Linked DNA regions of Homo sapiens: regions 2, 3 and 4 are each linked to region 1. Evidence: fine-mapped expression QTL. A gene starts in region 1. Each other region holds a variant in brackets. All regions are shown on one strand. Distances are from middle to middle.

Region 1 (8,103 bases):
AGCACATTAAAGATGCCATTCCATTGTCTTCTGGATTTATTGTTTCTGAAGTCAGCTGACAATCTTAAAAGGCAATGCATCTTTTCCCCGGCACCTTTTTTTTGTTTAATTAAATTAAATTAATTTTTTTTTTTTTGAGATGGAGTCTCAATCTGTTGCCCAGGCTGGAGTGCAATGGTGCAATCTTTGCTCACTGCAACCTGCATCTCCCAGGTTCCAGCGATTCTCCTGCCTCGGCCTTCCAAGTAGCTGGGATGACAGGCGCCCTCCACCACAGCCAGCTAAGTTTTGTATTTTTAGTAGAGACGGGGTTTCATCGTATTCGTCAAACTCATCTCGAACTCCTGACCTCAGGTGATCCACCTGCCTCAGCCTCCCAAAGTGCTGGGATTACTAGCGTGAGCCACCGTACCTGGCCCTGGCACCTTTTAAGATTTTATCTTTTTCCTTGGTTTTCAATGGTTCTACTAGAATGCACTGGGTGTGGCTGATTTTGTATTTATCCTGCTTAGGAGTCATAGAACTTACAGAATTTGTAATTTGATGTCTTTCATCAGTTTTGCGAAACTTGGACTCTTGGTTATTATCTTTTCAAATATTGTTTCTGCCCCTTTCTCTCTTTTTCTAGAAACCTGAATACCTGGTAGAACTTTTCATCATGTCCCATGTGTCTCTAATGCTTGTTTCTGTATTTTCCATTCTTTCCTTCTATGCTTCAGTTTGGATATTTTCTATTGATGTGCCTGCAGTTCACTAATCGTGTCTTTAGTTTTGTCTAACATCCAGAGTTCACAGCCTCATTTATTACACTTTTCACCTCTAGAGTTTTCATTTGATTTATTTTTATAGATTTCAATACTCAGGTGAAAATTTTCATCTTTTTTTCTGTTTTCTTGAAAATGTTCATCAGAGTTATTTTAATCAGGCAACTCCAATATCTGACTCATCTGTGGGTCTGTTTCTATTGTCTTTTTCTTTTTTTATCTAGTAACTTTTTAATGAGATGCCAAATATAGCTTCTAAAAAGTTGTAGAGGCTTCAAATGTTATCATTCTCTCAGGAGGGTTTTTCCCTTTCCTCCACAAAACCAAAGACAGGAGTGGCCAATAACCTTAATCCAATCAGGGACTGCATGGAGTGAAGGCTGGGCTGAGGTTCTGGTAGGGTTCAAGCTACCGTTGCCCTCCAGTTTCCAACTGGGAACATGGTGTAGGCTCTGCAGTAACCCACTTCCACCACCACCCTAGCAGATCTCAGACTCGAATCTTTGTTTTGCAAGTCTATCAAAAACTTCTGCTTTCAGAGGCCTTCCATTTACATTTCAGTTTCTTGCCCCATACAAGCCTTGAATTCAGCAATTGTCCTTGGAATTTCCCCCTACATCGCTGTGTTGGTTTTGTGTCCCCAGCAGTGGCCCTCTGTGGTCTCAAAGTCTAAATTCTCAGCCTCATGCTTGTATCCAGAACTGGCAAAAGCCCTCACACACCAATACAAGCCACTGCAGACATTAGCTCACCCCTTGAAGGTTCCTCATTCTCTGGAATATCAAGTCCCCCCATTCTTGCCTCAGCAGCTTTCACTGCCTTCAAACAGATGTTTTCTGACTTCGCTTTCTGGCTTTTCTAGTTGTTGTTAGTGGGAGCCTTGGTCTACTGCAAGCTGCTCCATCACACCTGAGCGTGGACATTCAATTTCCTGATGGTCTACTACGTAAATGTAAAAGTGAAACTATCTTTGTTACTCATCTCAGAGAAAGCCCTCAGAAAAAAATGTCAGAACAGTTTCTGTTGTCCTTCTACCTTGCTGCAATTGCTACTGAGCAATCAACGGGCTTTTTCCTGATGTGCTAGAAGCCAACACCATGGCACGGGCTTTTGAGAAAAGAAAGGCTTTATTGTGAGTTGACTGTCAAGGAGACATGAGGAAACCCTCAGCTCTGTCTCCTTGAGCTTGGGGCTGGGTTGGGTTTTATAAGCATAGGGTAATGACGCATGATCGGATTAGATTTTGCGATGAGGTGATGCTGGGATGCTCATCTGACTGGACCCTGCCATGGGGTGACACCAGGGCTTGATCTGATTGCATTCTGGATCTCACCATGCAGTGCCCATTTCTTAATTCAGTCCCTGCTTTGATCTGAGCACTCAGGTTCCGCCCCTGGTTGCATGCTTGGTTCACCTGGGCATCCTCAGGTTACGTGCGAAACCTTCCATCTGGGAGTCCATGCAACTGAAAAACAACTCACAACTTGGGTATATAAAAGGCGAATCAGATTGGTCTGGTGCGGTTATACAGTTATTAATATCCCTTTGTCAGAAGTCAAAATTACCACAAATTTAGATTAAAGATCTATTGGTTTTTATTGATTCATGAATCAGGATGGCATCTTCTCTGAAAATTTAGAAACGGTGCTCCAACGAGCTGGGCAGAGGAGGTGGGCTTTATAGGTAGAAAAGGGCTAAAGAAAGCAGCAACAGGGAACGAAAAACGGATTGGTCACTGCAAGGTTACAGGAGTCCCCTCTCGTCCACACACAGGTGGTGTGTCCCAAGACCCACAGTGGATGCCTGAAACCTCGGATAGTACTGCACCCCATTTTACATACACACACATATATATATACTATATATATACACACACTTCATTTTTCCTATACATACGTACATACCTACGATAAAGTTTAATTTATTAGGCACAGTAAGAGATTAACAGCAATAACTGATAATAAAATAGAAGCGTCACTGTTGAGCACAGCCTTGGGAATAGGACCTTGGAAGTAGGCAGAGCTCCCTAGGCCTTGTGGTCCCTAGTGGCCGTGGACAGCATGGGGGAGGAAATTCCCGGGAAGCAGCCTAATTTCACCCCAGGGAAGCCCCTGGTGGGCTTGTGGAGGGCGGGGTGAAAAGCCGCTGGTTTAGGGAAGGGGTCCAGCCTAGGCTGAGGAATGAGATGCGGGTTGGGACGGTCCCGACCCTTCCCCCAGCCTCTTTCAAGGATTCTGGAGAAACAAAGCCAGGATCCATTTCCTCTTGATGGCTGGCAAACTGAGCCCGGGCGGGAAGTCCTGGAAGACTGAGCCTGGGGTGGCGTTGGACACCAACTCCCAGGTCCTCGCCCCACACGGCCACATCCTCGCCCAGCCCCGCCTCCGCTTAGCTCCGCCCCGTCGCGGCTCCGCCCCGCGGTAACCACGCCCACACAACCGTATCCCCGCCCACAGCTGGCTTCGCCTTGGCCCCGCCCACAACCCTCTTTCCAAGCGGCGGCGGCGGCGGCGGCGCGAAGGCGACAGCGGCGGCGGGGGCGGGGCTGGCCTCACCCGGAATGAAAACAAACGGCGGCCGCTGCCGCATCCGGGCACTCTGCTGGTCGCGGCGGGAGTGGCGTGGCGCAGGTGAGGACACGGCGGCCGAGTGTCCTCGACCCCAGCCTCAGCAGCACTGCTTGGCGCCCCGGTTCCCGGTCCGACTGGGCACCTCTCCTGGCCAGGGGTGGAGCGGCCGCGGGGCGGGGGTGAGCAGCCATGCGTGGAGCTGGGCCGGGGCCGGGGCCGGGGCCGGGAGCGGTGGGCCGGGCTTCGGGACGCGCTGGCCGTTCGGGGCCCTTTGGTTTGCCCTGAGTTAGGCAGAGGTGTGGGGTATTTAAAAGAAAATATTGAGTGTATCGGTTTGGGGAGAGAAAGGAATAAATATGTCTATAAAAAATTAGCCAAATGCTATACTTGAATCGTAACACTCCGAGTATACCATTTGGGATTTATTTGCAATCAAAGCCAGATTTTCTTTGCTATTTAATGACAAGACACTTGATTTTCTCGAACCTTGACGACCTGATTCTATCATTCTCACCTCCTTCCCTTTTATTTTTAATCAAGAATCTTTCATTTTCCTAAGAAAAAATGAATGTGTCTTGACTAGATATAGTTGTGTTTCAACTATATATAATGTATACTTGAAAAGGTGTGGCTAAATGTAGCAATGATCGATTCATTACAAAAGTGAAAGTGAAATTTTTAAAGGATCGTTATAACGTTTCACTTTCTGCTTGGACCACGGAGTGATATTAATGAGTTTCGTCTTTTCTTAGTTACAATGTGAAACATTGTATGGCATGCATGAAACTTTTTCAGTTCTCATTTCAGTTAAAATTAAAAACTGACTTATTAAACTTGACTTAAAATATGTCGCCACTTACTCTGTTGTCTATAACTGAAGTTCCTTAAGTTTCAAGACAGTGGTTTAATTTTTTTTTAACATTAAATCTTATTCGGTGTAACCCTGGAGCTCTTGTTTGCTCCCTGGAGTGTCTGACACGCACTGGGTTTGTAACACTCCTTCGTCCTTCTGTCAAGTGGTGGCTTGGATGGCATCTTTTTAAAAATTTTTTATTTGTTTATTTTTTTAGTAGAGACGGGGTTTCACCATGTTGACCAGGCTGGTCTTGAACTCCTGACCTCAGGTGATCCACTGGCCTCGGCCTCCCAAGTGCTGGGATTACAGGTGTGAGCCACCGCGCCCGGCCTTGGATGGCATCTCTGAGTACCGCATCAGCCTTTCAAATTGCTTGGCTCCAGTAACCAGCCTGTGAAATTACTGTCCCCCAGTGGGGAGACAGTAGGGTTGCTGTGATATTTTATTCAGAATTTCTGAAGATTCATGAGTAGTATGTAAAGTAGTTTTTAAAGTTATTTGTGTTTGAAAAGCTAACGCTCTAAGTACTAATATGCTTTGCTGTGATAAGCCGTTTGTCAGTGCTTGAAAAATGGAGGATTCTCCCATGGGCCACCCAGGTTGCACACAGCAGCCTCATTGGCTGTGTTATTCCTTCCTCTCTTTTCTCCTCCCTGTCCTGATTAGCCTAATTCTTGTCCCCGCACTGACATAAAATAGATTTGAACTTTCTTTTAAAAAATATTTGTTTATGAAATACACAAGCTACCAAAGTTTTCAAAGATTTCAAAGTTGTGTGAATTGGGTTTGGGGGGATGTGGAATACTGGCCCTCAATAGAAGAAAGAAATTTATCTTGGTAATATTAACTCATATTTTTTCCACTCTCTAGAACTTGTCTTCATCATTCAGGGGCTAATAACATTTTTCTTTACTTATTGCTTGTCTGATTTGGGAAACCTTAAAGCGCTGTGCTACACCTGCCAGCTGCCTTACATCTCAGCCGCCTCACTCACCTTTGAATTGCTGTGCTAGTATGGGATGAGTAGACAGCTCCATCGCGGTACATACTTCTCTGGGAGAGAGAAGTTACATACCTGGAACAGGCAAGCAGCAAGGGACTCCATGACGGAAGTTCAGAGTCCAGTGTTGTGGGTGGAAGTTGTGCTCGTTAAGATGCTGCCTAATTTTGTGTCTTTGCCTGAGTCATGGTACAAACTCAGGGCCCTAATTTTCTCAGCTGTAAAATGATCCGATCAGTGTTAGATTTGAATAGTAGGGCCAGGCGCGGTGGCTCAGGCCTGTAATCCCAGCACTTTGGGAGGCCGAGGCGGGCGGATCACAAGGTCAGGAGATTGAGACCATCCTGGCCAACACGGTGAAACCCCATCTCTACTAAAAATACAAAAAATCAGCCGGGCGTGGTGGCGGGCGCCTGTAGTCCCAGCTACTGGGGAGGCTGAGGCAGGAGAATGGCGTGAACCCGGGAGGCGGAGCTTGCAGTGAGCCGAGATTGTACCACTGCACTCTAGCCTGGGCGACAGAGTGAGACTCCCTCTCAAAAAAAAAAAAAAAAAAAAAAAAAAAAAAAAAGTAGATGTGCTGTTAGGCTGTTAATCAGAAAATATGCAAAATTTTCCTAGTATTGTAATCTTTTTAATTTAAAAAATTCTGACATAGAAAATATTTATATATTTATTATTATTTTGAGACGGAGTCTCACTCTGTTGCCCAGGCTGGAGTGCAGTGGTGCCATCTCGGCTCACTACAACCTCTGCCTCCTGGATTCAAGCGATTCTCCTGCCTCAGTCTCCCGAGTAGCTGGGATTACAGGTACCTGCCACCACGCCCGGCTAATTGTTCATATATTTTTTTTTTTTTAGTAGAGATAGGGCTTCACCATGTTGACCAGGCTGGTCTCGAACTCCTGACCTCAGCTCCTGAACTCAGCCTCCCAAAGTGCTGGGGTTACAGGCCTGAGCCACCACACCCATCCGAAAATATTTATTATCGATAGTTTACAGTTCAAGCAAGCTTTTCTTTATATTTAACTACCAGGATGGTTGGCCTTTTGTTTTATGTTAAACTAGCCAAAGTATGAGAGAATTTACAAGCTCACGCCTGTAATCCCAGCGTTTTGAGACCAAGGTGGGTGGATCACTTGAGGTCAGGAATTCGAGACCAGCCTGGCCAACATGGCGAAACCCCGTCTCTACTAAAAATATGAAAATTAGCCGGGCGTGGTGGCGCATGCCTGTAATCCCAGTGAGTAGGGAGGCTGATGCAGGGGAATTGCTTGAACCCAGGGGGCGGAGCTTGCAGTGAGCCGAGATCGCACCACTGCACTCCAGCCTGGGCGACAGAGCGAGACTCCGTCTCAAAAAAGAAAAAAAGAAGTTCACGACTCGAGGGATTTATCTTTCTCTTATTTTCTCTTTTCTCTTAGATAAGAGAATAGCAGATTAAGAAATAGAAACATGTAATAATCCTTGCTACATATTAGCAACTTTGAAATACATATTTTATATATGTAATATATATAATTGAACATATATTTCTATATATATTTTTAGAGAAGTCTGGAGCTCATTTAAACCATAGTAATTTATATTTAATGACAGAGGAAGGGAGCTTTGCTTACCCAACAAAGCACCTTAACATGTAGGTAAGTTATTAACATTTTAAAATGCGATGTGGAGTTTTATTAATGTATTGTTTTGCTTTCAGGGATGGCACAAAAGAAATATCTTCAAGCAAAATTGACCCAGTTTTTAAGGGAAGACAGGATTCAACTTTGGAAACCTCCATATACAGATGAAAATAAAAAAGTTGGTTTGGCATTAAAGGTATTTTTCTTTTAAGACATCAATAATTAGCAGCATTATAAATCTCCTTGGTAAATAAGATTCTGAATTGTCAGGCATGACCATATAAACTTTTGGCATAACCAAAAGCATTAGTGGTGAGCGGGTACCCACTTTTTACTAGGAACTGACAACCTTATTTTTGTTCATTAATATTTTATTCACATGAGGATGTTATCTAATTTTTCAGGCATATATTTTTAATACCATCACAGGATTACATAACATTATTTATCTGGAACTCATTTTGACCCATTAGTGGAACAGTATTGGTGCCAGTAAGTAATTGCATTGTGTGTTCAAAGTGACAGTGTCTTGGCTCATTCTCGGTCCTCCTTGCTATCATCATCTGCTGTGAAACAATTGCTCCTTTTTCCCCCAGTTTTTTTGATGCTCTCACTATCAGTGTTCATTTTTCCAAAATAGGTTTTTTCTAACAGTTGTATCTCAGTTTTTCATGGCATCATCAGAAATGATATTGTATGTAAGTGATGTTTCTAGAAACTGAAGTCTGCTTGCTTTTCTAAGCAGAGAAACAGTACTCATTTTTGCCAGAAATCTATCATACTGGAATTTCCTAGCATGTACTTCTCTGCTCTCATTCAGAGTATCCTGAACATGATGTAACATTTATCAGGGACTAAGGATTGTCATGAGGCATTAAATTGCTCTGTGTTGTGACATAATGATGTGCTTGGGAGGTGACAAACTGTATTAGGGTCCTAGTTCTTCTGTTTCTTCTGTTCCAGGCAGGCCTCACTTTTTCTTTGCAACCCACCTTCTGACCTTGCTTCTGAATTTATTGTTACAGTCTCTTGGTTTAGAAACTAGGTGTGGCATAAAGGAAAAATATTTGACCTTTGTCCCTGGTTCCTGGCAGAGCCAAAACTCTTGGGATTTCCTAAGTGGTAAGCATGATAGGAGCAACCTTTGTGCTCATGAGGCTTGGTTGCCCCTAGATAGCTTCAGGATGGGGCTGGTCACCAAAAGTACCAAGCCGTGATTAGACACTTGAAACTTTCCACCCTCCCCTCCAACCTCTGGGAAGGGGAGATTGAGCTGATGACTAAT
Region 2 (8,103 bases), 32 kb after region 1:
ATTATTTTTATTTTTATTTATTTTTTCCTTTAATTTTATTTTATTATTATTATACTTTTAAGTTTTAGGGTACATGTGCACAATGTGCAGGTTAGTTACATATGTATACATGTGCCATGCTGGTGCGCTGCACCCATTAACTCGTCATTTAGCATTAGGTATATCTCCTAAAGCTATCCCTCCCCCCTCCCCCCACCCCACAACAGTCCCCAGAGTGTGATGTCCCCCTTCCTGTGTCCACGTGTTCTCATTGTTCAATTCCCACCTGTGAGTGAGAATATGCGGTGTTTGGTTTTTTGTTCTTGCGATAGTTTACTGAGAATGAAGTAAGATTTTATTAGCATCTGGAAAGCTAGTGTTTTAAAATGAGATCATTTGGAAAACAGTTCTCATCACTGTATAAGACTATAGTTCATAAAACATTGTCACACTCATGTCATTCACTTCTGCCTGTGACCAGCCGAGAGGCCACAGGACAGGTACTTCTCATCTTACACATGGGAAGAGCTGTTGCTCAGAGGTGGTCTTTTAAAGTATAGTGGAGTCATATCACTTGTACATTTCTGAAGTTAAAAGCCCTTGGAGAAAATGCAAATAAAAAAACCAGTGTATATAGTGCAGTTGATCCTTCTCCCTCTTCCACCCAACAGATGTTGTTAGTTACGATGCCTTTGGCTGAAAGCAACAACAACAACAAAAAACCCAAAATGGCCTAAACATCAAAACAAGGGATGTGGTGGGATTTATTGGCCGTTTACTTGTAAAAAGTCCAGAAGTAGGATAGGTCTCAGGGTTAGGTGATTCATTCAGTGGCTTACTGATGTCACTGAGGACCTGAGGTCTGTCTTTTACCCCCACCCCCCACCCCATGTCATCAGTGTCATCCAGTCACAACAAGGGCCATAATCTGTGTCCCAGAATCCTCAGGGAAAATCCTGAGCTTCTTGTGATTGGGCAGCCTTGAACCTGTCACTGAGGCTGGAGGAACGCCAAGACTGGCTCAGGCCTGTGGCAAGAGATAGAGGGTTGCCACCTTAGCCCATTCAGGGGCCACCTGGGGAGCTGGAGCAGCCTCCCACACCTCAGGGAGGGGTAGAATGGGTGCTGGAAAGACAAAAACAATGTCCCACAGAAAGTGAGCTCCTATCGGAGCTTTAGATGAGCAAGAGAAATCTGCTGCCCTCGGAGTTCCAACGTTCTAGGTATGAGCATCTGACTGAGCTGAATGTAAAACAATTCGTTCATGTTTTTGTTTGAGACAGAGCCTTGCTCTCTTGTCCAGGCTGGAGGGCAGTGGCGTGATTATGGCTCACTGCAACCTTGATCTCCCGGGCTCCAATGATCCTCCTGCCAAGAGCTCTCGGCTGATTTTTATTTTTTTGTAGAAATGGGGTCTCACCATGTTGCCCAGGCCAGTCTCAAAACTCCTGGGTTCAAGCAGTCCTCCCACCTTGGCCTCCCAAGGTGCTGGGATTACAGGTGTGAGCCACTGCACCCAGCCTTTAATACATAATTATTAAAAGTTTATATTTTTTGTGCAATATGGCCCTGAGTACAGACCAGTTTCTCATCTGAGAAAAGCAACAGCTGTAGAAACGGAGCTCACAGATCATGCTTCGGCATGGCCAGGCCGTGAGACGTAGCCTTCCTAAGAGGCCATCCCAGCTTGTTGTGACCATACAGTGCCTCTCTCTTGAGATCTGATTCTACTTAACTGTAGCCACTTCAGTGCAGTACTCACTGTCATTGATTTGATCTACTTTATCTTTCTAACTCATCTTAGTATAAAGAGAAATTTCAGAAAATAATGTTCTCACATGTGTTTACATGATTAAAAGGAAACAGACTAAGACATTTGTAATGAAAGGAAGTATTCTTCGAAGCTCCCAGTTGGTGTGAGGTCTGTGTTAGGTAATGCCCAGGTCCGCTGGCTGGCAGCGTCCTTCTCTGTGCTTGGATGTTAGGTGCGCTTCTTAGCCTTTTGGAATATAAATGGAAGAAACTGTATTGAAAGCAGAGGATGGGGCCAGTAAAGGCATTTTACATGGAGTATGTGTAAATAAAAGTGCAAATGTGAGTGGTATGAAAGACTCCTGCTGGCATGTGTGGTTGGGGTGGTGTGGCAGGATAAGGTCAGTTTCGAAGCATTGTTGGGGCCAGGGAGTGGGGGCCCTGAGTAGCAGAATAAGGAGCTGGTGCCTCAGTGTGGGGAGGTGGTCAGGAGCTGCTGCGGGCTTTCAGGTAGGTGACTGGAATGACGGAGCCTGCTGCCCTGTGCAGCGGGGCTGGAGCTGGGGGAGACTGGCCACTGAGAGGTAGAGCACGTAATGGGGGCATGAGACAGGCCTGGTGCAGCTGAAGGGGAAGCAAAGGGAGCTGGCGCTGTGGGCACTCCAGGGCCACACCAGGAGGTTCTCCTGTGATAGAGACAGGCCATGAGTCTACAGATGTCTTCATCCCTGGAGATGTTTCCAGCAGCCACTCTGTTCTGCCTGCTCCTACTGTGGGGCCTGTGGAGTCTGGTTCCACAATGATGATGCTTTTGTTTTCCTAAGAGATGAGGCCGCTTTCCTGCTGTGGGGAAAATGCAGGGAGGCGCCTGTTGCCTGGGCTGGGCAGGAGGCAGGATCAGGTCTCTGGAAGGAAGGAGTCTGTTTTCTCCCCCGTCCTCGCTGCTGCTGATGGTGGGGCTGGTCTCCCTGGGAGAATGTAGCAAGTCACTTAACTTTGTTGAAAGCTTTCTGTCTCCTTGTTGGGAAAATAATGAGGTTGGATTAAATTCCTGGTTTTCAAACTTGCTTTGTTGTTGTTGTTTTTAAGCAGCAAAATCCCCTTTTTAAATGACATTTTTATGGGGATACTAGTTTACAAAATAAATTGGGAACTCTCCTGATTGGCCCTGGGTGGGAGAGGTGAAGAGACTAGAACCCTCTGCAGCCGTCCTGCGCTCCTGCAGCAATAGCAGGCAACTCTGAGAAACAGGGTTGAGAACCAAGAGGTTAGATGACCTTTGTCTCTGGGCACTCTGTGGGTTCCGAATGGAATGACAGGCCTCAGAAGGCCCTGGAGTCCTTGCTCCCCAGGCTGTGGGGGGCGGGTCACCAGCTTTGGCATTGCCCAGGAGCCCCTGATTCCACATCACATTTTAACTTGAATCCCTGGGCGATTCATCGAAGGCTGGAAGGCCTTCCCACCGCGTGCAGAAGCTCTCCTACCCGGTTCCTACCTGGTTCCTAGAAGAGAATCCATGCACCTCACACCCGCGACCTCTGCAGTGGGAGTGCTGGGTTGGCGAGCAGCCCATCCTGATGCCGGATGGTGGATGGCGGGGCTGGCGAGGCACCTCCTTCCTGCCCCACGGGCATCTCACTTCCACTGCCTGCCTCAGAAGCAGCACTTCCACCACCCCTCTGCCTCTGTGGCACCTCTGCCATTTGGCTGGGTGAGGAGAGGTAGAAAGAGGGCCCCCTGTGCTTTGCTTTGGTTTTTTGGCTTTGCCTGGAAATGCGGAGAATCCTGCAGAGCGCAGACTGAGAGGCTGTGAAATCTCAGTCCCTAACTTGGGATGGGACTTTGCTGTTTTCCTAAAGGAACTGGCCCAAATAAGGAAGGAGGAAAAAGAGAAGAAAAGACGCCGCCTCGAGAACATCAGGTTTCTGAAAGGGATGGGCTACTCCACGCACGCGGCCCAGCAGGTACTCCACGCAGCCAGCGGGAACTTGGATGAGGCCCTGAAGGTAGCAGCTCCCTCGGGGCCTCTGGCCTTGTCCCTGAGCAGTGGGTCCTGCCCAGAGCTCCCTCCATGGCTCTCCAGCATCCTCCCGGGCTCACTCCTATGGGCTGCCCCGTCATCCGGATCTGAAGGGCAGGTTTCTCCTGGGCTCCAGCCCAGACACAGGCTGCGTGAGGCCACGTGAGGCCCCATGCTCAGTGCTTGGCCCAGGCCTGGCTCCAAAACGTGGTGCCTGTCCACACCAGCACAGTCCACAGGCCAGGACTTTGTGTAGGGTTTCTGTGTGCAGCAGAGTTTAGTGAAACAGGCAGTTTCCACGGCAGAAAAAAGAGAATGGGAATTCAACTTGTAGTATAATTGTTTGGCATTAAAATTTTAAATGTAAGTATCTAGTTTTATTTATTTAGTCCATCGTACATGTTGGCAAAGGGAGAGCTTTTCAAAGAACCCCTCAGGAGTGACAGCAGGTTGGGATCCAGACAGCAGTGACTTTACCTGGGCCACTTCCTTCCC[T/A]GTGTTGGAGAAGCATATCGAATCCTCAGTAGGGCAGGTGCTGCGCTGCGTCTCAGCAGCTTGGCATGGAACCACCCTCTGCCCTCTCGGCCCCGCAGGTCAGTGAGAGACAAACTCAGAGCACACGTGGTGAGGGGTCCCGAGGGGGTGCACAGGAGGCAGGGGGCTGGCTGTGTGGAGGCAGCAGTCCAGACAGATGCTGGGGCAGCGCGGCGGGCAGGAAGCAGAGTGGTAGGAGCTGGCTTAGGTTGTGCACGTGCTGGGGGCGGGGCTGGGGGGACAGAGATGGGGTTGGAGGGGGTGGGGTGCAGGGCAGGTGTCCTCGTTTGCCCTGCTGAGGCGGGTGTGGGTGCAGCAGGCACGGGGAGTCCACCCTGCCTTTGCCTCTTATCCCTGCCCTGTTCCCCGGAAGGCTCCACAAGTCAGTACTTTTGTAACTATGTACATGTATATTTAACATATACGTTAAATTTTAAATTTTTATTTGAATATCATCTAGTTCGTTTTTTTGTGTGTTGGAGAAATATTAAGAGGTGGGAAATTCTGAATATTCGAAGGGACTGATGGGTCTCAAAATAGATGTGAATTATACGAGTGGCACAAAAATACTTCCAGTCAAAATGGAAGTACTGAGTGTTGGAAAGGAAAGTCTCCACAGGGTCTTTGAAGATTAAGTATTGTGTGATGAAGAAATCAAGGGTCAAAATAACCCTACTACCTGCCTGACATTTTAAGTCTAGAGGGCATGACGCTTTCAAAGATCAATCAGGCAGCCCTGAGCTGCTTGAGACCTTTCTGTCTGTAGCTCTGACAAAACCTGTTTTCTTGGATGCTGCTTCCACCTGCTCTCCATCCCTTCCTGCTCTAACAGAAGGGATCTTTTCCCTGACTAGTCTTGCTCCTCCTTCAAACCCCAGCTGTCCTGGTCTCTGGCTGGAAGCCTTCTGTGAACACCAGCCTGAGTGGGAGCCCCTTTCTCTGCCTCATAGCAGCAGAGGACGGCGGGGTCTGCCTAGCACATGGCAGGGTGCAGCGCCTGTCTGAATGTGTGAAGAGTTCTTAGTGATGGGTAAAGGGTGTTCCTGTGTGTTTTAGATTCTGCTCAGCAATCCTCAGATGTGGTGGTTAAATGATTCCAATCCTGAAACCGACAACCGTCAAGAAAGTCCTTCCCAGGAAAACATTGACCGAGTGAGTGACAGGCCTTTGTGCCCTCAGCTTGGACAGCCTCGGGTGGGGTTGCTTGGGGTAACCCGGGTGAATCAGGCAGCAGGACTGGGGGAGTCCGTGCTGAAACCTTGGCTCCCAGGCTCCAGGTGTAACCTGCCCACCTCAGAGGCCACCCACGCAGTAACAGAGGGCAGGGGAGGCCTCCTTGGAAAGCAGGAAAACTGGGGAAGTGTCAGGAAGTTCTCTTTAGGTTTGCTGCCTTTGTCTATGCACCACTGTTTGCATCAGCCTCATTTCTCTGCCTGTGACCTAAAAGGATGGCACTGTGACCTGGGAAACCCATCCAGCTTTGTATCCCAAGTGACGGCTCTGTCCACATTTGTGCCCCTACACGCGTTAGCACGCCTGTATGCTGTGGCCACTGACCTCGCGGTGCTCGTGGTGAGGCTGGTGTGGCGCCCTGCTCTCAGCCCGAGGTCACTGCCTGTCCTGAGATGGCTGCTCCCTGACGCACCCGACTTGAGTCTTCCAAGCCCCCTTCCAGGTTGCTCTACGCTCACATTGCACAGAAGCATGACTTGTGCACAAAGGGCCATGGTGCACACGCCGGGAGCTCTTAAACATGAGAGTCGGCTGTCCACTCGTATGGCTGACGGGGGTGGCAGAAGAGGCGCCAGGGGCTGATGCTGTGACCCCTGCGCTCTCCCCTAGTTGGTGTACATGGGTTTTGATGCACTCGTGGCCGAAGCTGCGCTGAGAGTGTTCAGAGGCAACGTCCAGCTGGCCGCCCAGACCCTTGCTCACAACGGAGGAAGCCTGCCTCCCGAGCTGCCGCTGTCGCCAGAAGACTCTTTGTCCCCGCCAGCCACGTCCCCTTCTGACTCCGCAGGTAGGTCTGAGGTCTTTGAGGGCCGCATTGAGAGCAAAGTGTCTTCAGAAGCCAACAGATGTGGCCCTAAGCCACGGCAGATGTGGAGACTGAGGGGGCGTCCCCTGACGTCACCGGGCCGGCCACCTGGACAGTGTGGCCAGCAAGAGGCACAGTCTGAGGTTGACTGTGGTCGTGCAGTGTCCCCAGGACAATCCTCACATAATTCACTTACTCCTGCGGTATTTTATTGTAGGAACCTCTAGTGCCTCAACAGACGAAGACATGGAGACAGAGGCCGTCAATGAGATACTGGAAGACATTCCAGAGCATGAGGAAGACTATCTTGACTCAACTCTGGAAGATGAAGAAATTATTATTGCAGAGTACCTATCCTATGTAGAAAATAGGAAGTCAGCAACAAAGAAAAACTAAATAATGAACAGAAATAGCGCTAATTTTCTGCTTATAAATGCTATCATTATGAAAAGGCTAATGCAGCTCTTTCTGTTCTTACTTTTTATCTGAATTACAAGTCCTCTTTGGGTGTAGGAGGGGGTGGGCAGGGGACAAGTCCAGGAGGGGTCCCAGGGCCTTCATGCGTGGTCTCGGGGAAGAAGCTTCCTCTGGCCTGGCGCAGGCCGTTCCATCTGCCTCCCAGGTCTGCGTCCCTAACCCCTTCCCCAGCTTGGTGTTTTACCCCGAAACAGGAAGGAACAGGGGTCCTGTAGAACAGGGGTCCTGGGGAAGGTGTCCAGGGCAGGGTCCTGGGAAGGGTGTCCCGACCGCTTCCTCTCCAGCTGTGGCTCCATCTGCCCAGCTTGCCTGCCTCCTGCACCCACTGCCCTGACCTTCCTGCTTCCCACGCTGCCATCTCTGCCAGGGTGCCACATGGGTTCCTGTGCCACCCTTTCCCCGCCCCTCAAATCGTCCTTTAAGTCTTCCTTCCAAGTGCTGTGGGGCATAACGATGAGGCGCTGGCCTTGGGGGCCACACCAGGTCGCAGCAAATGGCTTCAGCCTGGGACGCCAGTGTTTTATGCTCTTAGTTCAGTAAAATACGCCCCCGAAATTCAAGATTGAGTGTCAGGCTTTATATATATTCAGCATTCCTCATTACAGAAATCTTCTATTGAATGGGAAAGGTTTAAATGCTAACCAAAGCAATTTATTTTTAATTAATATTTTTAGACTCTGTGCTGTCATACTGAACTCACTGCTAGCTAAGAGACCTATCAGAGATTTAGATATATTTTCTCCAGGTTTTTTGTGGGTTTTCTTTGTTGTTGTTGTTGTTCTAGCCATGTGACAGAGGCTCTTTCTAAAAGTATGTAGTTCGCTGTGTGTCGGCTCCAGCAGTAACCGTCCTCACTGCGCCACGCACTCCTCTGTAGATGTGTGCCCAGTGGGAGTTCCTTCCAGCCCCAGGACCACAGCAGCAGCCAGGTGCCGAGTGGATTGAGTGCCAGGTGCATCCAAGACTTTCCCTCCCTTCCAGAAGGCACTGACTGAAGACAGGATGGATCATGCGGAGCCGGCTGAAATGCTCCAACTTTTTCAAAGTGTGGGTGGTCCAGTTTGGACTGATGGGAATCTTCTTGTCATTCTTTTTAAACGGATGATACCGATGGAAATAAAAGGTGGGAAATATATTCAAAAATTGTCACCCTAATTTTGCATTAATTTACTCAGCCTCCCCAGCTGTAGGTGTTGAAAGTGTCTGGGTGACTAGCTCTTCATTTTGATTGCAGGATGTCTGTTTCCACTGAGTTTTGTGAGGAGATGATGGAAGGATGATCTCAGAAGCAGAGGGCATCTGC
Region 3 (8,103 bases), 56 kb after region 1:
TGCCTGGCAGCACTGTTCACGCATCTTCCATTGATTCACCAAATCCCTACCACAAGCCCACGGACGGGGCAACTTCATACCATAATCCCTAATCTAAAACCTTGGGACAATGCGTTCGAGGATTTTCTGGCTTACAGACACACTCCTGCATCTGCAGGAAAGGCGTGAGAACCCCCAGGCACCGGGATGTTCGAAGCACACACAGTCACATGTCTCTTCAGGCCAGACTCTGCCACCAGGCGTTTTCGTGCCAAGCTTAAGAAAAAACTTCTCAATTTTTGGAACTTTTTGGATTTAGGAATTAAGAAGGGGCGTAATCCTCCCTGTACATGTGAGGAAACTGAGGCCCACAGAGGCTGGGTGGCTTGTCCAGGGGAGGCAACGGAGACGGGGCAGCAACCCCACGTCCCACACGGCCACACCATTACAGCGCTATGTGCTTCCTCTATCCTGGTTGTCAGCTTATAGCATGATGGGCCACTTCCCAGTCCCCAACCCATGAGGACGGAGCCCAGGAGGCTGCCGGCGTTCACCCTGACAGCACAAAGACAAACCAGGAAAACAGTCAACACCCGCTCCAGGCGCCCTGCAGGCAGGCTCCGCCCCAGCTCTGGCCCAGCATGCAGATTCAGAAGCTGAGTGTTATGGGCTGCATCATGCCCACCCCAGATTCACGTGTCGCAGCCCTACCCCACCCCTGTACCTATGAATGTGGCCTTTTTGAAAGAGGGTCTTTAAAAGAGGCAGTTGAGTTAAAATGAGTTCATAGGGGGGCCCTAATCCAGTATGACTGGTGTCCTTCTAAGAAGAGATTAGGACACACACACACACACACACACACACACACACACACACACACACGAGGACAGGGAGAAGGCAGCATCTGCAGGTTAAGGAGAGGCCTCACGGAAACCAGTACTGCGGACCCCTTATCTTGGATTCCCAGCCCCAGGACCGCAAGGCCTCCGTGGCGCTTGCCAGGCCCCCATCTGCAGCGCTTTGTTATGCAGCCGAATCACAGATACCCAGGGCAGGGCGGCAGTGCAGGGGGTGACCTGGGCTCCCCTGGCTGCTGGGCGGGGACCAGGACAGTCTCACCTCCAGACAGATGACGGAGCCCCGGTGCTCCCGGAACACCCGCAGCTGCTCCCCACTCAGGATGTCCCAGGCACGGATGGTGGCGTCGGTGCTGCCTGTGAAGGCCGTGTGGCCGGGCGTGTCTAGCACTAGGCACAGCACTGCACCCGTGTGGCCCCGCAGCGTCTGGTGGCAGCAGCCGCTGGCCACCTGCCACACCTTGGCTGTGCCATCTGTGCTGCCGGTCACCAGAAGCCCCCCGGCCGCGGCCTCCTCCGCGCAGGGAGTGCTGGGGAGGTCCCACGGGGCAGAGTAGGCTAGGGTCAGCACGCAGTTGCGGTGGCCCCGGAACTCCCGGGACATCTGCCCCTTGTCCACACTCCAGACCCGAGCTGTCCGGTCATAGGAGCTGCTGAAGAGCTGGTTGTTGGCAACCAGGATCCTGGGGGCAAGAGGGAAGGGGTCAGGGATCAGAAGGCACGGGTTCCAGAATCCACACAGCCTCCCGACATGCCATGCTCGGCACTGCAGCTAAAATAACCTCTCCCTGTGTCTGCCCAGCTTGCCACACTCGTCTTCCAAGGTCCAGCTCAAATCGCCCCCACCTCCAGGAAGCTACCCTGACTCCCCTCATGCCCACCCTTCCTTGCCTGCCCCTGGGCATGTACCTGTAGCAGGGACCAAGCTTAGATGCTCCGCTGGGATCCCTCCAGCATCCCCACAGCAGCTCTGCAGGAGCAGCGGGAAGGGGATGGGGGAGGAGGTAGGGGAGCAGCGGGAAGCGGGTGGGGGGGAAGGTAGGGGAGCACGGCCCTCTCAGCTTGCCCGGAGTTGAAAAGCTTCTGGGGATTTAGGGTTTTCAGCCTAAGACTGAGAAAGTCCAGGGCAGAGTGGGACACGCTGGTCACCCTGGGAACAGGGCCGGCTCAAGTGGCTGGGCAGGGCACTTCAGATGAGGGCCCTGAGAAGCTGGAGAGCACTGGGAACTCCCATAGTGCACCCAGGGGTGCTTGTGGGAGGCACAGCCAGGGGTCACGCTACAGCCAGTGGGGGCCTCTGCTGCCAGCTCTCACAGCAATCCCCATGCAGACTGAGGTCACAGCCTCAACAGGGTTCTAGCCACATGGCTGGGAACTGGGGGTTGGGTAGCCAAGAGAGTCCATCCATTCAGTGCAACTGACCAACATGGGAGACCAAGGCCCCCACATTGTATTCACGACTCTTATTTTCATTTTGATGGAAGCCAAGAACTCCCCAGAAAAACACACATTTGTCTTTAGTGCAGAGCTTTGCACAGAACCTCAGAAGGTCTGAGCACACACCCTTGGTAAGAAGCCCTGCACCTCAGGAGAGGAGACCGCCAAGGGGTGCGGCCGTGGCTGCACTGTAACAAGGTGCATCCCTGCCGGGGTGGGACCCTCCTGAATCAGGACCACGGCCGGCCCTGCTGCTCCTCCCGTCCTCCCGCGAAGGGCTTGCTGGCCAGCCTGGCATGGACAGGAGACCCACTCGGGACAAGCCTGCTGCCTCCCGCCTCCACAGGATCCCAACAGCATTCCTCACTTCCCGCAAGCAGCTCAACGACACATGACTCCACTCAAATGCCAACTATCCCTTTCCAACTGGCTTCTTCCCTGAGACCCAGATAGGATGATTGTCACAAAACATGTATTTATTTATTTATTTTGAGACGGAGTCTCACTCTGTCGCCCAGGCTGGAGCGCAGTGGCACGATCTCGGCTCACTGCAACCTCTGCCTCCCAGGTTCAAGCGATTCTCCTGCCTCAGCCTCCCGAGTAGCTGGGATTACGTGTATTTTTAAAGGAAATGATGCCTTGATGCTGCTGCTGCAAAGTGCGGGAGGAAGAGGGTGTAGCGGGAGGAAGGGCATAGCGGGAGGAAGGGCATAGCGGGAGGAAGAGCATAGCGGGAGGAAGAGGGTGTAGTGGGAGGAAGGGCATAGCGGGAGGAAGAGGGTGTAGCGGGAGGAAGAGGGTGTAGCGGGAGGAAGAGGGCGTAGCAGGAGGAAGGGCATAGCGGGAGGAAGGGCATAGCGGGAGGAAGAGGGTGTAGCGGGAGGAAGGGCATAGCGGGAGGAAGGGTGTAGCGGGAGGCCTTGGGGTATGGAGGGGGTGGCTGAGTCCTGCCTGGTGTGAGAAGGCAGGGATGCCAGGCCACTGAACGATCGGTGACCCCAAAGCTCACAGGCCTGACCTGGCTCTGAAAACTCGGGAGGAAGTGAGTTCCTGATTTATGAGGACAGTTACTTAATCATGCAAATATCTACACA[G/A]AGCTATGGGTTTGGAGCTGTGACCGATCCAAAATAGTGTGTGTGTTTGTATATGTTGTGAGCACATGTGAACATGTGTGCATATGTGTATATGTGCATGTGTGTTGTGTGCACAATGTGTGCCTGCATGTACTTTGTGTGTATATGTGTATGTTTTGTTGCTTGTGTAAGTTGTGTGTCTATGTGTGTGCATGTGTGTGTTGTGTGTGCATATGTGTGTGTAAGTTGTGTGTATGGGTGCATATGTATGTTGTGTGTATGTGTGTAAGTTGCATGTGCATGTGTAAGTTGTGTATGAGTGCATATGTATGTTGTGTATGTGTGCACATGTGTATGTGTAAGTTGTGTGTATGGGTGTATATGTATGTTGTGCGTGTGTGCACATGTGTAAGTTGTGTATGAGTGTATGTGTGTGCACATGTGTATGTGTAAGGTGTGTATGTGTATATGTGTGCGCACGTGTGTATGTGTAAGTTTGTGTATGAGTGTGTATGTATGTTGTGTATGCACGTGTATATGTGTAAGTTGTTTGTATGGTGTATGTGTATATGTATGTGTGCGCACGTGTGTATGTGTAAGTTTGTGTATGAGTGTGTATGTATGTTGTGTATGCACGTGTATATGTGTAAGTTGTGTGTATGGTGTATATGTATGTTGTGTGTGTGCGCACATGTGTATGTGTAAGTTGTGTGTGCACATGTGAGAGTAAATCTGGCCGAGCATGATTTCTACCTTTAATGTTCCAGTTTTGCTTTTGAGAAGCATCTGACAGTTGTGGGTTTGGCAGCTGAGGGCCCACTGGTCACTGCAGGCAGGCCTTCTCCCCGCTGAGCCCATTGCAGCCTCTGCCTGACTCACAGGAGGGCGCTCCCCCAGCCCTACTCTCTTCTTTCATGGCAAACTTCTTTCTCAGGGAAGTCAGAGTGCTGGGAAGAGGCCAGTGGAGCTGTGAGCCCTGAGTTCTCACTCTAGCCCCTTCTTTACCACCTTGTGGGCTGCCTGGGCAGGTCTCAGGGCCTCACCTGCTTCAGCTGAGGAAGGCCGGGGCCAGACGGCCACCCTACCTTGTGTCTGCATATACCCCCCATTCACTCTAAAAAGTCCCCGCATCCCTTCAGCCTCCTCCTCAGGGTGTCACCCAGCTCCCCGTCCATCGACTATCGATTATTATTCCTGGCTGCAGCCACCTGCGACTCCAGCGAGCTGGGCTGATGGGTCTCACTGCCTTTCCTGTCCCCCCATGCGCTGGTCCACTGACTGGGGGTTCCTGTCAGAGCTCAACCAACAGCATTCCTCTGGTGGGGTTCATCCTGTCTGGTCTGCGCCCCCAGCCCCACCTTCAGGACCCCCTCGTGCCAGCCTGCGCCAGCCCTGTCTTTACTTGGGTCACCCTCCAGGCAGCGCCCCTCCTCCAGTGCAGCTGCCAGGCCCAGGGGCGCCAGGAGGCCTCCCTCGGGAGTCCGAGGTGACCACCACAAGTGACTCCAACAGTGTCCAACTGATCTGATCAGCAAAGGAATTTCCATTGCTCAGCTCAGACCCAAATTCATTGAGAAAGGAACAATTCCAACCTTCTTGAGAAGGAGGGGCTGGGATATTTTCCACAGCTACAAAGAAAGGAGAGGCTTAAAAATATCCTCAACTCCGTCTTCGGAACAATCCCCCACACTCCTCCTCCTGCAAACCTTTGGTCCACCATCGGGTCTCAATTAAGCCATTTCCTATGGAATTTGTCCCCATCCCTACGAGCTGTAGGCTCTGGTGCTTTTCCCTGCACCCAGCGGGGAGCCACTGTGCCCCCAAGGGGGAAGCATCAGGCTCTGTTCAGTGGATGGGCAGTGCCTCCCTGCCCCACATGCAGCCGCAGGCACTGAGCTCGCTGCCTGTCCTGGGTCCACGTCGCTGGGTGCTACTGACCACCTCCCAGCTGTCCACGTTTTTGCTTCCCCAGAGAGCCAAGGGCCCTCACGTGCAGGGGCCCATATCTCTGACCCCTCAGCCCCACCAGAAGCCTATGTATGGTGAGACTCAGCCCAAGCCCCCAGCCAGGCTGACCTGTTCACGATGGACGTGTGTCCTCGGTACACCTGCAGACACTGCCCGGTCAGCACGTCCCACCTCCTGATGGTGCAGTCGGCGCTGCATGTGAAGGCAGCCTCATCCTCCAGCTGGCAGAAGGTCACATAGCTTTCATGTCCTGCAGATGAGGGACAGGGGAGATGTGAGCGTACTGGGGATGCCAGCTCCTGCTTTTCTTCTGGGAACAATGTTTGAAAAGGGAAGAAAGCAGGATGTAGGGAGTGTTTGAGACAAGCTGGAGTCAATTAGCATTAGTTTTGTTTTGTTTTGTTTTTTTGAGACAGAGTCTCACTCTGTCACAAGGCTGGAGTACAGTGGCGCGATCTGGGCTCACTGCAACCTCTGCCTCCCGGGTTCAAGTGATTCTCCTGCCTCAGCCTCCTGAGTAGCTGAGATTACAGGCGCATACCACTATACCTGGCTAATTCTTTGTATTTTTAGTAGAGATGGGGTTTCGCCATGTTAGTCAGGCTGGTCTCGAACTCCTGACCTCAAGTGATCTGCCTGCCTTGGCCTCCCAAAGTGCTGGAATTACAGGCGTGAGCCACTGCGCCCAGCCCTCAACTCATCCTTCTTAAAGAATGACTTCAGTCTGAGTGATTCTCAGAAAGCACGGGGTACCAGTGAGGCACGACAGATAGTCAGGGAAGTAACCATGTCCTCAGGACGCAGCAACCATGGCGACTGCGCCGTCAACACAATAAGCCCCAGCATTCGCACTGCAGGCAAGCTCATTCAAGCAAAGCTATCTTCAGTAGGGACTTTCCCCTGTAGAGAGCACGTGCACTTTGATTTTTACCGGTCCTCACAGTGACCCTTTGCTCATTACAATAGTAAAAAACACACCCCTGGATGGAGATTTAAGATGCCAGTGAGACATGTGACGTATGAACAGGGATGCACAGCCACTGTGCATGAGCACCCAGAACATGCTTCCCAGCAACCCCCTTGCCCACCTGCTCATGAATAATCAGGTAAGACTCCTAAAAAGGGATCCTCCCTCCAGCCGGTCTTTGCTCTCTCATCCTCACAGGCAGCCTACCCTGACTCCCCTCTTGGGGCGTCCTGCCTATTCTGCACCTAACTTTCAGGGTATTCTTCCTCCTGTGCAATACATTGCTCTATGCTGCATCTCCTTTGCTGTGTGTCTCCTGTTTCAATTCTGTTAAACTAAGAAGACAAGAACTGAGGTTTCACAGCAGCCATCAACAGCAGGAGCAATCCAGGGGCACTCGCCTGCACCCTAAACCCTCTGTTTCCTCAGCTTCCACTCTTGCCTTCCTCCCTCCTCTCCTTCCCTCCTCATTTCTTTATCATCTCCTTTTAGTCTTTTTCAAACCTTTCAGCTTTTGCATTCCACATTTCCTCACCTGGGATGGGGACAATGCCTGCCTCACGGGATGTAGCGCAGACTGAGGACAGAGGCAGCCGCAGAGGGAATGGCACATGTTCGCTATTTTCCTTACACTGGGGAGAGATACTGTGGTAGGCAGAATGACGGCCCCAAGACAGCAGGTCCTAATCCCTGGAACCTGTCAATGTGACCTTACTTGGAAAGGGGTCTTTGTGGATGTGACGAGGTAAAGACTTTGACTGGGGAGATTATCCTAGATTATCCGGGGGGTCCTAAATACAACCGCAAGTGGCCAGGCGCGGTGGCTCACGCCTGTAATTCCAGCACTTTGGGAGGCCGAGGCGGGTGGATCACAAGGTCAGGAGTTCAAGATCAGCCTGGCTAAGATGGTGAAACCCCGTCTCTACTAAAAATACAAAAAATTAGCCGGGCGTGGTGGTGGGCGCCTGTAATCCCAGCTACTCGGGAGGCTGAGGCAGAGAACTGCTTGAACCCGGAAGGCGGAGGCTGCAGTGAGCTGAGGTTGCACCACTGCACTCCAGCCTGGGTGACAGAGCAAAACTCTGCCTCAAAAAAAAAAAAAAAAAAAAAAAATATATATATATATATATATATCTCCACAAATGTCCTTACAAGAGAGAGGCCAGGGAGATGTGATATACTCGGAAGAGGAGGCCGTGAAGGTGAAGGCAGAGATGGATGTGGCCACGAGCGCAGGAATGCCAGCAGCCACTAGGGCTGGAAGAGGCCAGGAACCGACCGTTCCCTGCAGGGTTTAGATGTGGCCCTGCTGACACCCTGCTTTCATCCCAGGGACGCTCATTTCAGCCCTCTGGGTTCCAGCACTGTGAAGAATCAACTTCACTTGTTTCCAGGCACCAAGCATCCTCCTTTGTCACAGCAGCCCCAGGACACTAACATAGACACAGAGACAATGAAACACAGCCTTGCCCTCCAAGGGAGCTCCAGGCCCAGAAGGGAAGACAGTCAAGGGCAGCATGTGGTCAGCAGGGCTCGGCACCCCACTGGCAGCGGCTGGCTGGGGCTCGGGAGAGAAGCCTGAGCACTGGAGACCAGGAAGAGGGTGACTCGGTGCCCGTAGGGAGAACAGCGGCTAGGAAAGCAGGCGTGCAGGGACTGGCTCCATGGGGCACCTCCAGGCCAGAGTCTGAGTGATCGGTAGAGATGACTGATGAGGCCGGGATGTGGCCAGAATGGAGGGCCAAGAGTGGAGGGCCATGCCAGGGTGTCTGGGGTCTCAGCACCTGAGCTACCCCACCAGCTGGTTGGGACTCTATCTCAT
Region 4 (8,103 bases), 45 kb after region 1:
AGCCTGGGCCACAGAGCAAGACTCCGTCTCAAAAAAAAAAAAAAAAAAATGTTTGTAGAGACAGGGTCTTGCTATGTTGCTCAGGCTGGTCTTGAACTACTGAGCTCAAGAGATCCTCCCGCCTTGGCTTCCCAAAGTGCTGGGATTACAGGCATGAGCCACGGTGCCCAGCCTGTTCCAGCCTTTTTGTTAAAACTACAGAGTGAATGGCCCCAGAGGGGAAGTTTCATTTCTGGGTCTCTTTTCAGCCCCTTTCTGCCTTCCCCCCACAAACTCAGACAAATGGACATGGCCTGGAAAACCCAGTGTGGCTGCTGAGCTCCCCGCGGGTGGGAAGAGGATCAAAAACAAAGTCTGATCATCCCATAGCCTTGCTGGCCAAGACCAAGAACCGAGCTGGGCAACAGTGAGCTGCAGGCTTCGCTTTCCCTGCGGGCTCCATGCCCCGGCTGCACGGGGAGGTGTTCTAGGCGGCCGCCGGCCAGAGCCTTTGAGAGTGGAACCTTCCTCGTGTTCAATTAGAGGACCCAGACTTGGGAACAGAGCCGTAACCACACTTCCAGCCTTGGACACAGGAACAAACGAAAAATAATTTTTCTGTGTCAGACACCTGAATCCTGAGGGCATGTCAGGATCTATTTTCAGATATCTACATTCTGTCTTCATCCAACACCTTTGCTGTGAGGTCAACTTGAATATTCCACTGTGACTCTTCCCCAACCCAGTCTCCTCCCTCCCAGAGGCAGAGCCAAATGGCCCGAGAGTGTGACAAGTTGAGACCTGTAGGACAGACAGCAGGTTGCCTGCCCAACAAGCGATTCTGCCCTTCTTTCTTTCCAAAATAACCCTGATTCCATCTGGGCAGCAAATTCCTCAGATAAAAGACTTTATGATTCTCTATCTCTTGCAGACAGAATGGTCACAGAGAGGTATGTAGAAGCCCTTGGATGAAGCTTCCAGGAAAGATCTTAAAGGACCAACTCAGCTAGAAGACGCGTCCTTTCGCCCTTCATCCTCTCTCTCTGCCTGCCTAAAACATGACACGATGGCTGGCACTGTAGCAGCTATCTTGAATCATGAGGCTTCTTTAAAGATAGAAGGTCTGTGCTAAGGATGACGAAGAAGAGTGACAGAAGAAAGCTGGGTGCCTGATGACTTTGTGGAGCCACCCATTCCAGCCGAGACCACCAGCCTCTGAAATTCTTCTACCTGAGAGAAAATAAACCACCACCTCATTGGAACCACAGCTACCTGGATTTTCTCTTCTCTGCAGACAAATCCTAAGGCCAAGTGAGGCCAAAGCCATGTGGCCCTCGAGGCTGGCAGGATTAAGGGGCAGTCACTGTCTCACTTGGAGAATTAGGATACACCCTTTGGGACATGCTTTTGACCCTAGACCCTCCCAGCAGTCCAGTCTCCCAGGCTGTCCTGGAGAAAGGTTGGGAGGAGCCACCAAACCCTTATTTGCACCTTCTTTGCAAAACAGCTGGAAGCACGGGTGTGTGGAGAAGGAACGAGCACTGCCATTGGACGCTGATGATTGGCAGCCAAGGCTCAATGAGGGAAAATCCCATAGGAAGTAAAGAAGCAGAGAGGAGAAGCCAGGCTGGGGTGGCACAGGTCGTGCAGGGCCAAGTCACTTACAGGTGCCCGCGTGGTACTTGAGGGCGCTCACGTTGCGTCTGTGGGCCGTGAACGTGCGCACACACTCCCCTGTGTCTGCCAGCCAGCACTTGACGGTCCTGTCCGCGCTGCCAGAGTACACGAGTCGGTTCACCAGCTGCGAGGAGGAGCAGGGAAGGTCGGCAGCTGGGGCAGCTCTGAAGCCCCCCAGACCTCTCCCTCTATAAGGGGGGAAGGGGCATGTGCAGGTCTCAGTGGTGAAACCATGGGTGAGCCTCGAATGGCCCCGCCACCGGCCCCACCAGACTGCCCACTTCAGCACCCAAAAGCAGGCGGCTGCTCCTGCCCCATGGGGCAGCCAGTGCTCCAACAGGGCTGGCCGCCCAGCCCCACACTGCCCTGGGCCAGTCCCTGGCTCTCTGCCCCTCAGCTGCTTCCCCTGAGGATTAGGATGTGGACAGCCCCTTCCTCGAGGGTGTGTGTGGGGTACAGGCACTTAACTGCTCGCTCCTGCTGGCTGAGGAGAGGGCTTCCAGAGAAGGGCTTTCACATGGGGCTTTTGCTTCAGACAGGACAGAGAAAGCCCTGAGCGAGGGTGTGAGGCAGACTTCTGCCAAGACTGGAGCTGACAGCCGGGGACTGTCACGGGGTCACTGCTCCCCCTGCTCATGGGGCTCACAGTGAGAAGAGGGCCCGGGAGACAGTCTCACCCAGCCATGTGATGCTGCTGTCTCGCAGGAGGTACGGAGAGGGCCCAGGAGACAAGGGAAGAGGCCCTCGCCAAGATGGACGGGAGTAGCGGCCCCAGGGAAGTGCGGAGACTATTAAAATAATTCTGTAAATTCCCCTAGACTAAACACCACCCAGCCAAGAGCACTCCCAGCCAGCACCTCTGGTCAGCAGTCACGGACGAGAAGGCCAGGGCGGGCAGGCGGGCTCCACAGCTGCAGTGACCTGGCGCGATGGCACAGGAGACAGGCGCAGGCTTCATGCCCCAGAGAGGCCTCCTGCCACTACTGCTAGGGCCCAGGAACCAGGAGTCAGAAGCGGGTCAGGCACACAGGGCATTTCTCCTGTGGTCGGCAGGCAGTGGGCCCACCGGCAGGCAGTCAGTTCACGCTGGCCACTGGCATCCCGAACACGTCCCTCCTAACCTTCCCCTCACGACCACGCTCTGGGCCACTTTCCACTGCCGGTTCCCCATATTATCTCCCTGTTCAAATCCCAGAGGACAGAGCTTCCACGACCCGGGCCACAGCCCAGGTCAAAGGAGTTAACTGGCCTTGGGCCAATCACTGTGCCCAGAGAAGGCAGTGGAACCACGAGGAGCACAATGTGGCCTCTGGGAGGCAGAGGCTGCAGGTGCTTCCTGTGGACAGTCACCTGCCCTCTCTCAGGCCCTGCCCTGAAGTCCTGCTGGGGTTACGGTGGGCCCCAGCCCAGGCAGCCTCCCTAACTGGATGGTCCCCTCCCCAAGGACAGGGATACTGCCTACCTGCCCGTGTCAGCTTTGGCAGGGTTCCAGAACATTCCTGCACTCAGACCTCAGCCATCTGCACCACCCAGGAGCACAGTTCCTGCCAGTAATGCGGGCACCAGCAGGAAGGACAAATGGACCTTCCTGAGCCTGCCGGGCACACAGTCAGCTGCTTACAGTCTTCAACAGCCCCTCTGCTTCCTGAGAAAGACCACCCCTCCTGCCTCAGGCTCGGAGGCCCTGCAGGGCCCAGCTTCCCTGGCCCTATATCCTGGTTTCCACTCCACACACCTGTGTCCACACTGCTGCCCCAGGACCTCTGGGCACGTGCCTTCCTCCCAGGTTTCCTACAAGTCCTCCCTGCCCAGAAAGCCCTTGTACTGTGATCCTCCCTTTTCCTTCATCGGCAAGTGGAAGCCCAGGATCCTTCTTCGCACCGCCCCCAGGGCACTGTGTCTGTGTCCCGGAGGCTGGGCTGACCACCACCAGCGCAGCGTTTCCTGGCCATCTCCCCAACACATGGTCAGCTCCAGAGCCAGCCAGGCTCCCTGTGCTTGCGTCCCAGACAGTCACAGAGCCTCTCAGGCTCTAATAAGAGGAGTGGGCAAGGGTGGAATGTTTGAGACTGAGACCTCCAAGGACTGGCCAGCTTTGCAGCCCCACACCTCTGTGCTGCTCAGCCCCTGCACCAAGGAGGCTTCCTGGGTGACCAGGGCAGGAGGCTTGCTGGGTGACCAGGGCAGGAGAGGACAAAGGGAAGCCCCTCCTGTTCCCTGGCAGCCGGCCCTCACCACACAGGGCCTGTGAGCACTGTGCTTAGCCCTCCCAGTAGCACCCTGCCGAACATGAGCCAGAGCCACACAGGCCGAGGGGGCGCTCCCAGCCCCAGGGTCCTCAGCCTGTGGAGGCCTTGCTGTTCCCTCTAGCTGGTTTCCTGACAGGACAGGGAGAGCGGGGTGGCCCAGGGAGGCCTGAGCCAAGGGGGAAGGCAGGATGATCCTGAGGGCTCCTCGCAGCCACGGCGGCTCTGAGGAGTCTCCCAGCGATGAGATCCAACCAAGCAGAAGCAGGAGAGGCACCGGCCCGGGGCTCCGCCGCTGAGGGCACAGATGCGGGCCTCCACCTCCCCGGGCTCCAAGGGAGCCCCGCAGGGGTGGGAG[A/G]AGGCTGCAGAGGGCCTGGCAGGCTCCAGAGCAGCAGACCCTCCAAGATACTCCTCCCAAGCAAGAGTGTCGGGGGACGCACCACCTGCCTGGTGACAGCTGTGGTGGTCACAGGCACGGGGCTTACAGATGCACAGTCTTGGGTTCAAATCCTGCCTCCACCCCTCAGCAGATGTGAGACGTGGCCAAGTTACTCATCTTCTCCAAGCTTCCACTGTCTCATGTGCAACGTGAGAAACAAGGACCTCCTGCTAAGAACGAGGCCACAAGGGCTGATGCACTGCTGTGCGCCACACGCAGCCCAGGGCCTGAACATGGTAACCCCCGCCCATCCCCAAAACGCAGGTGCAATCTCTGCCCGCCGGCTCCTCAGGGTTGGGTGAGACTCATGAACTGGTACGACAGGGCTTTTGCAGCCAGAGACTGCCCCACGACATCCTTGCTGTGGTCCCCACCACCTCGGGCTCCCAGATCCTGTAGGTCTTTCTTTTCTCTGGCTGGATTTGAAATGCTTCGTTTCTTTAAAATCACAATGTTGCTATCTGATTTCAAAACTGGGTGCATAGGTGTCTGTTTTAGTTATTTTTTACAATTTACATTTGAAATGTTTTATAACTAAAATGTTTAAAACATCTCTGTAAAACCATGAAGGGACAGGGCAGAGACTCTATCTCTCCTCCTTCACAAGGACCCCAGGTCAAGCCCAGAACCTGGGCGACCCCTCAAAGAGCAGGGGAGAGGGCTGCCCTGCAGCGCAGGGCCACCACAGACAGGGTGCCCCCTGGCTTTTTGACCTTGGGTTTGTCGCTTAGAAGCAGGTCCTCACACCATCTCTGGCCCGACCCTCTCCAAAGGAGGCCTGTGTGCTCCTGGCTCTGTCCCCACCTGGCTTCTGGGACCCCTGAGATCGGTGGCTCAGCCCTGCATGCAGTCCTGTAAAAGGCGAGGGAGGCAGAGGCCCCTCTGGGCACGGTGGTTTCTCAGGACCTCACCTCTGCTTTTGGCCAACTTGGAGCAGGCTGCAGGCTTCAGGGAAGCAGGGAGGATGCTTTGTGGCCACCTGGTCCCCAGGCTGACGGTCGGAGGCGGGGTATATGAAGCTATGGTCTGAGTGTCGGAACCCCCCAAATTCATGCTGGAACTTAACCCCCACTGTGATAGCATTAGGAAGTAAAGTGGTTATGAGGGCCCGCCTCATAAATGAGATGAGTTCCCTTTTATAAAAGGGCTTAAGGGAGCCTGTTTGTCCCTTCATCCAAGACGAAGGACGTGGCAAGAGCAGCAGCCACCAGACACAGAACGTGCTGGCGCCTAGACCTTGGATTTCCCAGCCTCTGGAACAGTGAGAAATACATTTCTATTATTTATAAATTACCCAGTCAAAGGTATTCTGCACCTTTTTTTCTTTTCTTTCCTTTTTTTTTTTTTTTTTGTTTGAGATGAGGTTTCTCCATGTTGCCTAGGCTGGTCTGGGAACCCTGGCCTCAAGTGATCCGTCCACCTCAGCCTCCCAAAGTGCTGGGATAACAGGCGTGAGCCACCGTGCCCGGCCCTCCAGTCTAAGGTATTTTGTTACAGGAGCAGCAATGGACCAGGACTCTGCGAAACTGCACGGTCTCCTCTTTTCCTCCCCAGCCTCTGGAAAGGCTGCCCACGGGCTTATCTCCATAAATCAAAGAAGCCTGACCTGTGTGATGTGAGTGGTGCAGACACCACAGCTCAAACGCACCATCGCCGGGCGGCTCACTCAGGGTCCCAGCAGACGCCCCACACTTGGCCCACCAGGAAACCTCAGCCACTCTCTCCCTTGGCTCTTGACTTGCAAGCACACACGCTTCTTCGGCAAAACGATTTCAGAGGCGACACAATGGGGCTCGCAAAGCCACTGTGGGGGCCCAGGACTCTTAAGGGCACCTGGGAAGGAGTCTGCCCGCTCCGCCCTGCACAGGGCAGGGGCTGTGTGAAGTCCTTTTGAAGAGCTTGCTTCCTGGTCTCAGGTGCACCCACCAGGCCTGTACGCATAGGAGAAGGACGCCTGGAAGTGAGCATGAGGCCCTCTCTCATTTCGAGGAAGGGGAAGGAGATGAGGTGTCATAGACCACGGGTCAGTGACCCCGACTGCATGCCGAGAGCAGAGAAAAGCAACAAGCAGGTCTCTGCTTCAATCTTAGATAGCAATGGTGCCGCCTGCCTCACAGGGTTTCTGGGTTGGGGTGGAGAAGCCACACAGTCCTGTGTGTGGGTGCCATGTTCCTGAGAGCAGTTTGTGGATGGGGGTGCCGGTGAGCCAGGGGCTGAATGCACAATCTCCAGCCCAGCAGAGCACTGAGGCAGAGTGAGGGCCCCAGGCAGGCCATGAGGCAGGGGCCCCAAAAGGATCCAAATGCAAGAGAGCGTGGGGTGTAATGGCCAGCCCTGGTGCCACGAACCAAGGGACAGTCAGAGCTCGGGGAGACGGAGCACTCGCAGGGCCAGGGCTGCGGAGCAGGGGAGGAGCTGGAGGGGAGGAGATGAAAAGTCCCTGGTTCAGCCCTCAACGACAGAGCTCTCCCCGTGAAAACAGACCAAGCCCAGAGCTCACTGCACACCCCCCACATCAGGACCCCATCTGGCCACGCCAGGGGCAGCCATCGTGTGTCCCCACTTGGCAGATTGTGAAAAAGGAGTCCCCCCAACCCCCACAGTCAGGAAGCCTCCGGAAGTTGCACAGCGTCCTGACGCTGTGGGCAGAGGGGATGGTACGGCGCCCACCTCCCATCCCTTTCCCTCTACACTCGCCTTAAGAATCATTTCACTTTGGCAGTTCCTCAAAAAGCTGAACAGAGAATTACCAAGTCATCCGCAGTCCCACTGGCAGGCATATACCCGAGAACTGAAGGCAGGATGCACCCAGATCCCGTCCACCCGTTCACAACAGCTGAAAGGTGAAAGCAACCCGTGTGTCTATCAACAGGTGACGGATAAGCGCAATGTGGTATCCACATACCAGGGAATATTTATCAGTCACGGAAAAAGGAGGGAATCTCATCACACACCACAACACAGACGAACCCTGAAGATCTTATGCTCATGAAATAAGCCAGACAGGAAAGGACAGATCCTGCACGACTCCACTCATGTGAGGACCCAGAGTCATCAAATTCAGAGACACAAAGCAGAAGGGCGGGTGCCCGGGGCATGGAAGAGCAGCGGGGAGTCAGTGTTTAATGGGGACAGAGTTCTGATTTGGGCTGATGGAAAAGTCTGGAAATCATGGTATGATGCTTGCACAACACTGAACGTGCTTCACGCCCTGAGTAAATGCTGAAAATGGTTTAAAGGGAGGCCTCAGCTGATCCTGTGGGTCCCCCTCCTGTGCTTCCTGGACCCGAGAGGGCCAATCAGGCCCTTCTAGAAAGGCAGATCGTGAGCGGCACTTCCAGCCCATCTGATGAAGGCTGTGGCGGCGATGGCCCTCGGTCAGAGAAGCCACAGAAGGCAGGAGGGAGAACTGACATAGCCACCTGCGGGGGCGGGGCCCAGCGAGGGCTAGGGGACGCCATACCCAGAAGTCCTGCTTCCCGGATCTGCTCATGAGGCTCCTGCCCTGGCTCCCTGCCCCTGAATCTCTGTCAGGAAGCCCCCTCTGCGTTTAGGACAGTGTGAGAAATGTCCCATAGCCCTAATCAAACCTGGCTTGTAAGGCAGCAGCCTTCTAACCCCTGCAAAACTCCAATTTCCTGAGTGGTGTCGGGTGAAAGAAATCATATACAAGGGAAGAGAAAGGCAAGATGGTCCCTTCTGTGGGTCGCATGGCCCCCCACACGCAGCTGGGTGAGCTGGGAGCCCGGGCGAGACTGAGGG

Direction of the effects. Alleles are on the strand shown, and positions count from the first base shown. SD is a standard deviation of normalised expression in the study named. Not every link is listed here.
For the expression in spleen of the gene that starts at base 3,360 in region 1, allele G in region 3 goes with a lower level than allele A (small effect, 0.35 SD a copy in GTEx).

The links.
Region 2: its variant is fine-mapped to the expression of NUB1 in whole blood (INTERVAL, PIP above 0.99).
Region 3: its variant is fine-mapped to the expression of NUB1 in spleen (GTEx, PIP above 0.99).
Region 4: its variant is fine-mapped to the expression of NUB1 in whole blood (TOPMed, PIP above 0.99).

Annotation. Positions count from the first base shown.
Region 1 is chr7:151,338,453-151,346,555 of GRCh38, forward strand. NUB1 (negative regulator of ubiquitin like proteins 1) reads left to right here and starts at 3,360. Exons shown (of 15, transcript NM_001243351.2): 1 at 3,360-3,394; 2 at 6,896-7,014. The coding sequence starts at 6,898. RefSeq lists enhancers at 1,632-1,691, 1,822-1,911, 2,981-3,482 and silencers at 3,080-3,279, 3,450-3,629.
Region 2 is chr7:151,370,507-151,378,609 of GRCh38, forward strand. It overlaps NUB1 (negative regulator of ubiquitin like proteins 1), which reads left to right. Exons shown (of 15, transcript NM_001243351.2): 12 at 3,591-3,737; 13 at 5,342-5,437; 14 at 6,128-6,305; 15 at 6,541-7,943. The coding sequence ends at 6,719. It also overlaps a transcript of WDR86 not described here. Among named protein-coding and RNA genes, the nearest start is that of NUB1, 33 kb to the left of the region's middle. The variant T/A (reference allele first, on the strand shown) is at 4,247.
Region 3 is chr7:151,394,678-151,402,780 of GRCh38, forward strand. WDR86 (WD repeat domain 86) reads right to left here. Exons shown (of 6, transcript NM_198285.3): 2 at 5,423-5,564; 3 at 1,099-1,519. Among named protein-coding and RNA genes, the nearest start is that of WDR86-AS1, 10 kb to the right of the region's middle. The variant G/A (reference allele first, on the strand shown) is at 3,368.
Region 4 is chr7:151,383,444-151,391,546 of GRCh38, forward strand. WDR86 (WD repeat domain 86) reads right to left here. Exons shown (of 6, transcript NM_198285.3): 4 at 1,645-1,780. Among named protein-coding and RNA genes, the nearest start is that of WDR86-AS1, 22 kb to the right of the region's middle. RefSeq lists an enhancer at 3,910-4,572. The variant A/G (reference allele first, on the strand shown) is at 4,261.